3 separate regions of the Homo sapiens genome follow, and regions 1 and 2 are each linked to region 3. The links come from fine-mapping of genetic effects on gene expression. A gene starts in region 3. Each other region holds a variant in brackets. All regions are shown on one strand. Distances are between the middles of the regions. Region 1 has its middle 12 kb from the start of ERI3. Region 2 overlaps ERI3 (ERI1 exoribonuclease family member 3). Region 3 holds the start of DMAP1 (DNA methyltransferase 1 associated protein 1).

The links. PIP is the estimated chance that this variant, and not a neighbour inherited with it, causes the effect.
Region 1: its variant is the best candidate, but not a certain one, in a credible set for the expression of DMAP1 in whole blood (TOPMed, PIP 0.53).
Region 2: its variant is the best candidate, but not a certain one, in a credible set for the expression of DMAP1 in thyroid (GTEx, PIP 0.55).

What each region holds. Positions count from the first base shown.
Region 1 is chr1:44,365,468-44,369,620 of GRCh38, reverse strand. No RefSeq gene overlaps it. Among named protein-coding and RNA genes, the nearest start is that of ERI3, 12 kb to the right of the region's middle. RefSeq lists an enhancer at 665-1,197. The variant G/C (reference allele first, on the strand shown) is at 2,345.
Region 2 is chr1:44,232,526-44,236,678 of GRCh38, reverse strand. The region is part of intron 8 of ERI3 (ERI1 exoribonuclease family member 3); the gene reads left to right. The region is part of intron 2 of ERI3-IT1 (ERI3 intronic transcript 1); the gene reads left to right. Among named protein-coding and RNA genes, the nearest start is that of ERI3-IT1, 9.7 kb to the left of the region's middle. The variant A/C (reference allele first, on the strand shown) is at 2,503.
Region 3 is chr1:44,211,322-44,215,452 of GRCh38, reverse strand. It overlaps DMAP1 (DNA methyltransferase 1 associated protein 1), which reads right to left and starts at 1,982. Exons shown (of 10, transcript NM_019100.5): 1 at 1,595-1,982; 2 at 1,012-1,103; 3 at 555-750. The coding sequence starts at 1,699. RefSeq lists enhancers at 137-636, 637-1,138, 1,904-2,143, 1,882-2,176 and a silencer at 2,574-2,673.

The DNA of each region.
Region 1 (4,153 bases), 150 kb before region 3:
TTCTGCCACTCCCTGGGTGCATTTGGAGCTGCAGTCAGACCCATGGGCCAGGTTTTTTAATTCAGCCTGGGAATATTAACCACCACAATAATAATCACTTACATTTAGGCTGGGTGCGGTGGCTCATGCCTGTAATCCCAGCACTTTGGGAGGCTGAGGCAGGCAGATCACCTGAGGTCAGGAGTTCAAGACCAGCCTGGCCAACATGGTGAAACCCCATCTCTACTAAAAAATACAAAAAAAAAAAAAAATTAGCCGGGCGTGGTGGCGTGTGCCTGTAGTCCCAGCTACTCAGGAGGTTGAGGCAGGAGAAACTGCTTGAACCTGGGAGACAAAGGTTGCAGAGAGATAAAGGTTTCAGTGAGCCAAGATCATGCCACTGCACTCCAGCCTGGACAACAGAGCCAGACTCCGTCTCAAAAAAAAAACCCAAAAAACACTTACATTTAGTCAGCACTTACTGTATGCCAGGCCTTGTGTCAAACCCTATACAGGAACGATTTTCTTTCATCCTTGGGGCAACGCTACAATGGAGGCCCTGCGCTAGCACTGGAGGTGGAGAATGCAGTTGACATGCAGCCGCAGCTCTTTCGGGAAGGATTCTGCTGCCCCTTGACTCCCCCAGCCTCACTTGTCCTACACAGCCAGACCACTGCAGGACCTGCTGCTCTGGCCTGCCTGCAGCTTTGGGCTGGTTTCCCTTGCCCGTTTCCTTGCCTGAACAGGCATCTCCACCAGGTCAGCTCCTTCCCCTCAGCTTCCCTTGTTCTTTTCCTGGCCTTGGCTCATGCTGTTCCTTCTGCCCAGAATCCCCCTTTCCCCTTGTCTGCCTGGTGAAATCCATACTTACCAAGCCTTGCTTTAATGTCATCCTGACCTCCCTGCCCTCCCCTGTCAGGATGAATTGCTCCCTCCTTTGTGTTGCTGAACAGCACTTATCGCAGAGAACTGTAGTTACTTGTTTCACCACTCAGTCTGGGAGAAGAGACGGCAGAGACTGGTCTGATTCACCTCCTTGTCTCTAGGGCTCGGGGGCTGCCCAGTGTTTGACGAAGCCCATTGGGATTGGAGCGGGGGCTGTGAAGTTTGGCTGAGGACATCTCTGGGATGCGACCTTGGTTCTTCCTGCATTCTGATCTCTAACTTCTCTCTCCGTGGTTTGCCAAAACTGGATTTCAGAGACTAAGACAGGATCTCTCCCTCAGCTGGAATATGTTGACTGTCTCTCCCCTCCAGAAGAACCTCTTTCTTTGGTGGCCAACTTGTTGCCTGTGTCCTGCCTGGTATCCCCTCCAGCCTTGGTGCTCCCAGCTCTCCCCCATTTAGCAGCATCTGTAGATTTCATTAACTTGCTACTTAACCCCTCTTGCTCAGATCAGCTGTGAAGATGATAAATCAGGCCCAGGGCTCATCCCTGCAGTGGCCTTCTTCTCCACACCCCTCTCTAACAAGCCTCTGGCTGCCCCTATTCATCACCAGCTGCCCTCTCTTTCTTCTGCAGTTTCATGGCCCCCCCTATTCCCCTCCACCACAGACCATGTCAGGGTTACAGCCCAGCCACTTTGGATTGAATTCTGGAACCACACTTGGAGACAAACCCTGGAGCCTCACCCAGGGGCAGCAGGAGGTCGTAGGCCCTGGTTGGGAAAGGATGGGGAAGGCTAAGGGAGCACTGGATCCCCTTTCTAGCCATGGGACCAGGTTCATTTGTGTTTAAGAAGGGGTAGGGCCGGGGTTAGATTGGACCTGTATTCTCACTCCCTTACTCAAGACCTCACCGAATCTGCTATTCTGCTCACAGGGAGGGCCACCTGGACCTCAGTGGAATACCGGAGTTAGGTCAGTGTGGCAAGCAGTGTGGTTTGTCTGGAACTTAGCAGAATGGCTCTTTTTCCTCCTGGGTGGGAGCCACCCTGGCTCCTTTCCTAAGCTCTGCCTAGACACTGACTCCAATTTTCCTTCTTCCATGTGTTACCTTGCCCTCTCCTCTTCTAGACTCCAGGTCTCTCCTCTTGACTTCTTTCTCTTTCCTTTCCATGCCTCATCTCCTATTTCCTTCTCTTAATTTTTTTCTAGGTATAAACTCCCTAGAAGGAACCATCCTAGATGTCAGGGGCCTAAGCTTTTTGTAGTTCTGAGCAGGGCCTTTCTGCTTTTTCCCATCCCCCAGAGATCCCTCCTTTCCTGGGTCCCCTTTATTTCTACATCTGCCCCCATTCTTGCTCTCCTTTTATCCCCCAGTTCCTCACCTTCATTCTCAGCCTTCACAGGAGACAGTGTCAGAGAATGTGGAGCATCCTGCCCAGGCTCACAACAGGTTCTTGAAAAACATCCATTAAGCCCA[G/C]ATTGGAGTCTCCCCATCTTTGTTTCTTCGTCGTCCCTTCCCAGGCCCTGGACGATCCTCCACCCTCCCTGCTTGTAAGCAGGAGGCCCCTCCACTGGCACCCTCCTTCTGTCCAGTGAGGGGCAGGGGCGTCCAGGCCTCTGGAAGCTCATTCAGCCCCTCCCCGCATGTGCGCTTTTGTCAGGTGCTATTTCCACAATGTCTTCATTACCTCCTAATTGGCCAAATCTCTTTTCTTTATTTTTCTTGTTAAAGACAGATTTAAAGAATGAGTTCAGCAGCTCAGCCATTTTCAGACCATCATTAATTTCCCACCTTCTTATTTATTAATGGGGCAACTTCCTTGCTGGTATTTCTTATTCCCTGGATATCTCTGTAAAAGCCTGCCTTGCTCGTGCAACCCCTGGGACCAGTGCTAACTCACTCTGACTTTGTGCTGCCCTCAGCTGCTCTGCAATTCCCTCCGCAGCCCTGCTGCGCTCACAGTCCTACCACCCACAGCTTGCAGCGAGGAGAGTCTAGAACGCCCCTGCATTCTAGGCACAGAGGCTTCCTTCCTCTGCACAGAGTGGAACGAGACTCCCAGTTCTCTCCTCCACCCTTACCTTCTTCCACTGTATTCCAGGTCCTACACTAAGCTGAACATGTACAGTCTCATTCACTCAAGACCTTAAGGAACAAAAGGGGAAGCAGAAGCTCAGGGAGCAGCAATGACTTGCCCAGAGTCACTTTGCTCAGAAGAGGAAGAATCACGAAGTGAGCCCAGGTTTGCCTGGATCCCTGGCTTGAAGTTTACCTCTATGCCAGCCCACCTCAGGGAGGAGGTTATGGTTAGGATAAGTCTTGATACAGAAAGAGAAATGAGGACCAGTGAGACAGCAGCAGCACTGTGGGAAATAGCAGTTGGTGACCTGAGGATTAGCAGGACTGCAGTCAGCAAACTGTGTTGGGTGACCTGCCTCTCTCTTTTGTACCTTCACCTCTGTGGGTTCTACAGTTAAAGGACTCGTGTTTTAACGGCGATGTTACTAACACTTGGGAGCAGTTACCTGGGAACCCTCTGCATGCCTCTGAAGGGTAAGCCTGTACACACAGCTCCCACTGAGTCCTTCCAAATGGATTCTCGGTAGTTGCCTTTTAATTCTGGTTCTCCAGGAGCCTCAGCCCATTTCTCCAGGTGAGTGGGCTAACCTGCTGCTGTCCATGCATGAGTGTAGGTGAGAGTCGGTAAACACTGGACTCCTTGAGCTGACAGCTACTGCCATGGAGCCCAGGTCTTGGTCTGAGCACATGCTTAGTCCACTGATGGTTCCTAAACCTTCTCTAATATGAGTGACAAGGACTTGTGGTGCAGTCTTGTTAGGATTCCTCCTTGGGTCTTTCTATAATCAGAAATACTCTTATTATCCCTAGGCTCTGAGCCCAGACTCCAGGTGAGGGCCTATTTTGCCCAGGGCCCAGTGGCTAAGGCTGCGGCTACCTCCACGTTGCTGGTGAGTGGTGAGATGATGATGAGGACAGTGATCCCTCGTCAGGGTACAGGCCTAACACAAAGACAGCCTGGAGGTCTCATGGCTGCCTCCAAATGCCAAGTCATTGCTTTTCCTGTTGGAAATGGAAGCTTTGGGCAGGCCCTTAGGAGGCTCAAGGGAAGAGAGAAGAGAGAGAACTCAGAGCAGAATCTTCCTGCCCAATCTGGAACTTCAGTGGCCCCCCAGCAGCAGTAGCCCAGGAGCAGCAGCAGTGCCAAGAAGGAGTCCCCTGGGACCAAGCCCTGGAGCTGTGTTTTTACACTAAAAGACCTTGTTT
Region 2 (4,153 bases), 21 kb before region 3:
CTCCTCCTGCTCCCCACACTCCACGCCCTTCCCTCATCTCTTGGAACCTGCCACACCTTCTTTTACCTTATTGCCTTCCCATGTGGCTTTATTTTCCCCCAGAGCCCCATATTTCCACCCCACAACCTAATTAACTCTTCCTCATCCCTCAGAGCTCAGCTTAAAGTTTGCTTCCTCAGGAATGCTTTCCCTGACTCCTAGACTTGATCAAGTCCCCCTTTCCCCGTGTACTTTTTCTCAGCACCCTGCTCTCCCCATTTGTAGCATTTAATCACAGTTGTAATTAAGAAATTATTTGTTTGAAAGTTGTTTAATGCCTGTCTCCCTCACTAGATTGTAAGTTCCCTGAAGGCAAGAAATGTCTGTTTCATTTGGCTTATATCCCCAAAGCATAGCACAGTGTCTGACACGTATAGGCAGATAGTAAATAAAATGTGCTGTTTGAATTGAGTTAAATTGAGTTGAGATGGCCCTGGCCCACCCCTGGGTGCCAGGGCAGGGGGAGGCAGCTAGGGAAGTGCCTGGAGCTGAGGTGGTTCCCATTAGTCCTCATGATTAATTCACAGCCACACTGTGATAGAGTGGGCTTGTCCCCAGTCAGTGCCTCCACTGGGGCCCACCTGTTAGCGACAAACAAACAAAGGGGATAAATAATGCATTGGGAGCTGAGCCAGGCAAGGCGGCGGTATTGAAATTAATAGGGATTAGCTGAGCAGCTTGAGGATGAAATATTTACCAGGTGGGACACGGCTTAGGGAGGGCATCCCCCCTTCCCAGAGTCCCTAGGCATAGCTAGGCCTTTCTCCAGGGCATCACTGGCTAGGACTGGGGCGCCCCAGCACCACCACTGCCACCCTTGACTGCCTGGGTTTGCAGGACAGGCTGGCCAGACAGATGAGAGCTCAGGTCCTAGCCAGTCTCCTGGCACAGTGAAGTCCTGGGGAAACCAAGATGCTAGAAGGGAACGGAGGTGGGGAAGGGCCTGAAACCTTCAGGGCTTTGGAAGCTGGAGACAAAGACCATGACAGGGTTTCAGGGCCTGGGCATGTCAAGGCTTTGGGTGGCAAATGTCAGGGCTGGAGTAGGTTTGCGTGTGATCTTGCCCCTCTTTCTTTTCCTCTAGTCCTTCCTTCCTTCTTTTCAGTATGTATTTCTTGAGTGTCTCTGTGGATAACACCTGTGCCCTCAAAGAGTTCATGGTCTAGCAGGAGGTGAAGGAGAGGCAGTTACGATAGGCGGAGAATTGGCTGCTGTGGGAGCACACAGAAGAGGTTCCTAACACAAAGGCGGGATGGGGGGAAGGCACCTAGAGGAAGCACTAGCAAGCCTGGGTCCTGAGAGGTGAAGGCAATGAGCCAGGTGAGAAGTGAGGACTTGAAAACTCAAGGTGCAAATGAGCCTGAATTTGGCTGTACAACAGGGGAGTGGGACTGATGAGACCAGAGATGTAAACAGGTCCAGAACTCAGACTTTTATAAAGGGGTTTGGATGCATTGGGAGCTGAGTCAGGCAAGGTGGCAATATTGAACTTAATGGGGATTAGCTGAGCAGTCCTGAGAGCAGTGAGGAGCCACTGGAAGTGGTGCTGGTGGTGGTGGTTTTAATTTTTGACTCTTAAACTTTTTACTTTGAATTAATTTTACATTTGTAGGAAAGTTTCTATGTATCCCTTACCCAGCTTTCCCTCATGTTAACATCTTACATAATCACAATACAGTTATCAGTACCAGAAAATTAACATTGGTACTGTGCTACATTAAAGGGCCTCTTAGGCCGGGTATGGTGGCACACGCGTGTAATCCCAGCTACTTGGGAGGCTGAGGCACGGGAATCGGCTGAACCTGGGAGGCGGAGATGCAGTGAGCTGAGATCACGCCACTGCACTCCAGCCTGGGCAACAGAAAGAAACCCTGTCTCAAAAGCCTTATTTTAATTTCACCAGTGTTTCCATTAATGTTCTTTTTCTGCTCCAGGTTCATTGAAGGGTTTGTTGTTGTTATTGTTGCTGTTGCTGTTTTTTGAGACAGAGTCTCATTCTGTTGCCCCGGCTAGAGTGCAGTGATGTGATCTCGGCTCACTGCAACCTCCGCCTCCTGTTTTCAAGTGATTGTTCTGCCTCAGCCTCCCGAGTAGCTGGGATTACAGGTGCCACCACGCCCAGCTAATTTTTTGTATTTTTAGTAGAGATGGGGTTTCGCCATGTTGGCCAGGCTGGTCTCGAAATCCTGACCTCGTGATTTGCCCACCTCAGCCTCCCAAAGTGCTGGGATTATAGCGTGAGCCACCACGCCCAGCCCGGGTTTTAAGACAGGGAGTGAAATGACCAGATTGGTGGTTTAAAAGGACACCATGGAAGAAAGATTGGCAGGGGCACTGCCGTTACCTAGATGGGAGATGATGGTGGCCTGGACCAGGATGTTGGTAATGGGAACATGGGCTTAGAAATTATTGAAAAATATATGGTAATTAAAGCTCCTAGAAATTATTGGAAAATATATGGTA[A/C]TTAAAGCTCCAGGAGGGGATAAGTTTGCCCACGGAGAGAGAGTGAGAAGGGAAGAGACCAATGACAGTTCTGAGCAACATCCATATCTAAGAGGTGATCAAAAGAAAGGGAGTGTTCAAAGGAACCAAGGAGAATTGCATGAAAAGTGAGAGTGGGTCACTGAAGCCTAGGGAAGAGAGCTTCAAGGAGTGGATTGTTCACCAATTGTCTATCAATCAAAACCTGAAAAGCTTCATCCTCATGAGTCATAGGGATCATTAGAGAAAGCAGTGTTGGTAGAGCAGTGATCAGATCGCAAGGTGGGAGATGAGGAAATAAGATCTTGAGTGTAAACAACTCTGAAGTTTGCCTCTAAAAGGGAGGAGAGATTGGGTACTAGCCAATGGAAAAGGGAGTTAAAGGGAGACTTGTTTACTCCCAAGATGGGAGAGAATTAATATATTTACATGCTTATGTGAAGGAACCAATGCAGAAGAAAAAAGTGAAGCTGTATCAGTGGAAATAGGAGTACTCAATAATGTGTGGACCCTGAAAAGGCCTGGATTCTGGGTTGGACCCTACCCAGCTGGAGTGGAGGGATGGGCTTAGAAAGTGACATCAGGCAATTAGCTGGGCGTGGTGGCAAGAGCCTGTAGTCCCAGCTACTCTGGAGGCTAAGGCAGGAGAATCGCTTGAACCCGGGAGGCAGAGGTTGCAGTGAGCCGAGACCGTACCATTGCACTCCAGCCTGGACGACAGAGTGAGACTCCATCTCAAAAAAAAAAAAAAAAGAACGTGACATCAGGCTTGGCCCTCTCTTGTGACAGGAGGAGAGGACTGGGGCAAACTCAGGAGAGTGGCTTCTGTGTGGCTCCTGTGGAGTAGGAGATAAGATTGTTTGCATGGGTGAGGGGTTTGGGGTGATGTTGAGGGCAGGGGATTTGAGATTTGTGGAAAGTAGAGAAACTTGAAATTGTCACTATGGGTGAAGGGAGAGAGAGTGCACACTGATCAGGAACACTGGAGATTGGCTGGGCAGTTTTATATACCCAGCTGAGGCTGATGACTCTGATTTTGTAAGTGGCACTAGTCTATATGGTTGTGATTTTCTCTAGTCATACGCTCCAGGTGGCAGGCACAGAGAAGGCAGAGTCTGGGTTTTTCCAGGCAAGGGTGACAAGGAAAAGGGAATAAGAGAGTTGAGGATTGGCAAGAAAAAGACTGAAATGATGGACCATGCAATCCAGGCTCCAAAGGCAGACATGTCAGTTACGTTGCTAGGACAGAAACTATGACTTTTCCCTTCTTTTTCACTAAATAGAACCCCTGTATAATTATAGAACCGCTGTATAATAATCAGTGTGTACCTAGTTAAAAGACTACGTTTTTAGTTTTCCAGACAGCTAGGTACAGCCATGTCTCTGAGCTCTGGCCGGTGAAACAAAAGGAAATGTGTTGTCTGGGACTTGCAGGAATGATACCTAAAGGGAAACAGCTCATCTGGGAAATACGCTATTCTTGCCTTTTCCCGTCTTCCCCCTTTCTTTTTCCTGGAATGTGGATTTGATGGTTGGAGCTCCAGCAGCTATTTTGGACTATGAAATAGTCTGAGGATTGGAAACCACATGCCGAGAATGGCAGGGCAGAAAGAAAGAAGAAGTCTGAATAGTC
Region 3 (4,131 bases):
AAGACTAAGTCAAGGACGATCCCCCAAGTTTCTGGTTTGGGCAACTGGGTGGAAGATAGTGCCATTCACTGAGATGGGGAACAGATTTGGGACTGACAGAGGGAAGATGATGAGCTCTGTTCAGGGTACCTACCTGATGTAAGGTACCTGTGGGGCATTGAGAAAGAGATATTAGTAAATGACTGGATGCGAAGGAAGCACTGCTCTGGATTGGTGACTTGTAGAGAGGGTAACTGAAGCCACAGGGTTCATACTAAGAAAGTAGAGAACAAGAAGACTAGAGCACCTAGGATACAGCTCTGAGGAACAGCAACATTTGAAAGACCAAGAAAAGCCATGAAAAACCAGAGCAGGTCCGGGAAAGAACAGGATCCCTTGGGCAGAAAAGACCCACAGAGTCCTACTCTGCATGCATTTGCCACGAGGATTGAGTGGGTAATCACAGTTGGGCATAAGCGTGCCCCCAGAACCAACCCTAGGAGACTGGAGAGCTCGCACAAATGGCTCAAAGTGGGAGGGCAATCTTGGCCTGTGTCCGAATGAAGGTAGCTTACCTTATTGAACCTGGCAAAGGGGTAGTCCTTGCCCTCCTCCGCTGCACGTCGCCAGTGGAAGAACATTGCTCCGTCCTTGCGGGCCGGGTTGGTGAATGGCATCCACTTCCAAGGCCGCACCTTCTTGGAGCCCAACTTGGCCTTCACTGTACGGTATCCCTGGCCAGTGTCACTGGGTAGCAGTGGGGGTGCATCCCTGGCAGGGAGGTTTAGGGAGATGCGAGGTTAGAATCAGAAGGTGTGTTAAAGAGCTTTTTGTCCCAGGGAGCTGATCTACCCTACCCTATAGCAAGAAAGTCATGTCCTGGAGCAAAAGACTTCAGGTCCTCCTGCATCCTGCTAAGCAAGCAGGAGCCCTTGCTGGGGAGGAGAAAATTGTTAGAGAAAACTAGGAGTTAGGGGCATGGCAGGTGAATCAGGGGCCAAAACCTGGGGGACTTGGGACTCCAATACTTGCTTCTTGTCAGAGTAGAGCAAGGCATAGACTTCCCGGTGCATGCCCTCGGGCCTCTTGAAAGTCAGTGTCTCAGAGGACTTCTTGGATTTTTTCTGAGGAAGGAAACCACAGAAAGGAACCACAACCTAGACCCTTTCCTGAAAATTCTTTAGTCCAGCTCAATCCCTGAACAAAGCAGCACCTACAGGGTCAATGACAGGCAAACTGACACACTGTAAAGGCACAGAAACCCACTCCCAGGAACACCATCCTACGCCCAAATCAGAGCAGTCCCCTCCCCATCCCACCAACTCTCAGACTGTTACAATGTCTTGATCTCTCCCCAACAATATCTTGCAAAAATCACACTTGCCTGGTCCTCTCAGCTCTTAGAGGTGTCATACCCTCTTGGTCCCACCATCTCCCACGATGTCCCATCTCCTCCCTCCCATCAAGGATGACACATATTCCCTGTCCTGTTATGTCACCCCTTTTATCGCCCAACTCACTGTAAGTGTAGCACCCATCCCTTGCCCGTTGTCACTCCTCCCCATCTTCACTCCCCTACCCTCCCCTAGTCAACGCTTTCAGGTGCCCCTGCTACCTTGTCCGGGTTGATAATGTCCTTCTTGCTGATGGTCCCAGAGGCTGCATCCCCTTCTGGACCCCCGAGTTCTAGAATGTCCCGTACATCCGCGCCCGTAGCCATCGCGCCTGAGAGATGGGGGAGCCACCGGAGGTCAAGGGTCAGTGCCTGAAGAAGGACCAGGCTCAGGTCAGGGGGCGGGGCCAATCCAGACCTAAGCGGAGGCGAGTTGAAGGGGCGGGCCAAGAGGAGAAGGGTGGTCCAGGTCAGGTCGGGGATCTGCCTGTGCCCCACCGCTTGGATGTTCCTAACGGCCCCTTCAGCCACCTGGGCCCTCGCACTTCCGCACCTGGGTCCGGCAGCTGCAGCCCCCACTACCACTCCCCCGTCCCCGCAAAGCCGCGGCAGAAACTTCCGGCGGTGCTCATTCGGAACGCGGCCGACAGAAACACTTCCGGTCGGTGTTGTAGGAAACGAAGCCGACTGGCAACCGAGGGTGAAAGCTACTGGCCGTGCTGAGCTTGCCACCCTTTGGTTCTCCCGCGAGCCTGTTTTCATTGGTGCACTGCCTGCTTTCTGGCATTTTCCCTCTACGATGCTCCGTTGCGTCTCAGGCAGTGAAGAGATACCAGAACTTTGTGACTTTGGGAAGTCACTTAATTTCTCTGGACCTTTTTCTTTATTTGCCGAATGGAAATTGTAATGGCACCTGTGTAAATGAAATACCAAGAATCCTTGTAAAACATTAGCACGGTGCGTGGGACATTTACTATTTTTTTATTAAATGAGTTAATGATTTGAATTGCCCCCTCTTCATTAAGTGCTAATATGTACTAGGCACTGTGCTAAGCTTGGAGGTGAAGAGATAAACTTCAAATTGTGATAAGCTTGAAGATGAAGAAATAAAGGCAGAGCTTCCTAGGGCGGCTGCCAAAATGGAGTAAGGTGTGGGCCCTCATTTGCACCTCCTCTGATGGAGATAGCTGTGGGTTGTGGCCTCGTGGGGATTTCCTGGAGGCCAGCTTCGTGGCACTTCACTAGTACAGGAGCTAGCTGCACTCTTTGGGCTACGAAGAAGCCCAAAACACAGCCCCAAGCAGGAACCAGCTTAGAAGTATCCCTCAAGGGAATAAACCTGGGGATCTTCCTGGAAAGAGAGAGACAGGAGGTCCTGAGGAAGGGCACAAGGGACAAGGAAAGCAGCTCCCAGCTTCAGCAGTCTGCAAACCAGCCTGTCAATTTGAAGGACACATAGCCTGTGGGATAGGGTGGGGCTTGTTAAGGCATTAAGAAGGCCAGACCCCAAGTCGAGACCTGCCAAAGATACCAGCAGGGACTAGAGGAGCAGACAGTTTGCGCAAGTTAGCTATAAGTGGTGTAGCCTGTTCTGGCCTGGAGAAGACAAGGGGATACAACAGCTGTAGCCACAAGCCTGACTAGTCCCCAAAACTTTGGAGAACTAGGCCTGGAGGTACAAACCTGTTCCTGGGTCTGATTCCTGGATGGATCCACTGAGCTCCAAACAGTTGCCGGAGGAAGTCACAGTCTTACAGCAGAAATTGTCCACAGGGTAAGGAAATGGTCCTTGGAGCCAGAAAGGGAGAGAGCAATTGGCTGCCTGAAACACTTGACCCTAGTTGTAGTTAATTAATTGTGTAATTACTTGTTTAATATATATCTCTAATAGACTCATTTCTGTGAAGACAGGGATCACAGTACATAAAGGAATGTATGTGCCAGGCACTATTCTAGACTCTGGGCATGCAGTGGGTGAACGAGATACAAATAGCTACTGGTGGAGCTTATATTTAGTGGAGAAGGAGAAACACTAAGGAAATAGACAATAAAATTGATAATGTAAGTTTTGATGGTAACAAGAGCTAGGAAGGAAATGAAATAGAGCGATGGGATGGAGAACTGCTTTCCATAATCTGGTCAGGGAAAGTTAGTGGTCTCTCTTTTTTTTATAAATGTGTATATACATAGAAAAAATTCTGGAAAGGACTAAACTGAAATGATTCCATCACTTGTTTTTATCTGGCAATTTATATTTTCTATACTTTCTATAATGAATGTGTACCTCTTCTATAATAAAAGGAAGGAATGAAGGGAAGAAGGAAAGGAAGAAGGAAAGACAGGCAGACTGTGCGCTGTGGAAGGTGGACCAGGCCAGAGTTTAGGAGACTAGAGGGCAGTTGTGACTATCTAGGTTAGAGGTGTTGGGAAACTGAACTAAGGTTGTAGCAGTGGCAATGGATTCCAGATATTTAGAGAAAGATGACCATGTTATCTGCAAATAATGACAAGTTTATCCCCTCCTTTCAATTTATACCCCTTATTTCTTTTTCTTTTAGCATTTTCCAGTACCTCCAGTAATTGGTTAAACAGCAGGTGTGGTCGTGGGCATCCTTGTCTTTTTCCAGATCTTAAGGGGGGCGCATTTAAATTTTTTCTATTAAACATAACATTTGCTCCAGGTTGTTTGTATATACTCTTTCCCAAATTAAGGAACATTCTTCTTAGTTTTCTAAGAGTTATTTATTCCTTAAGGTGAT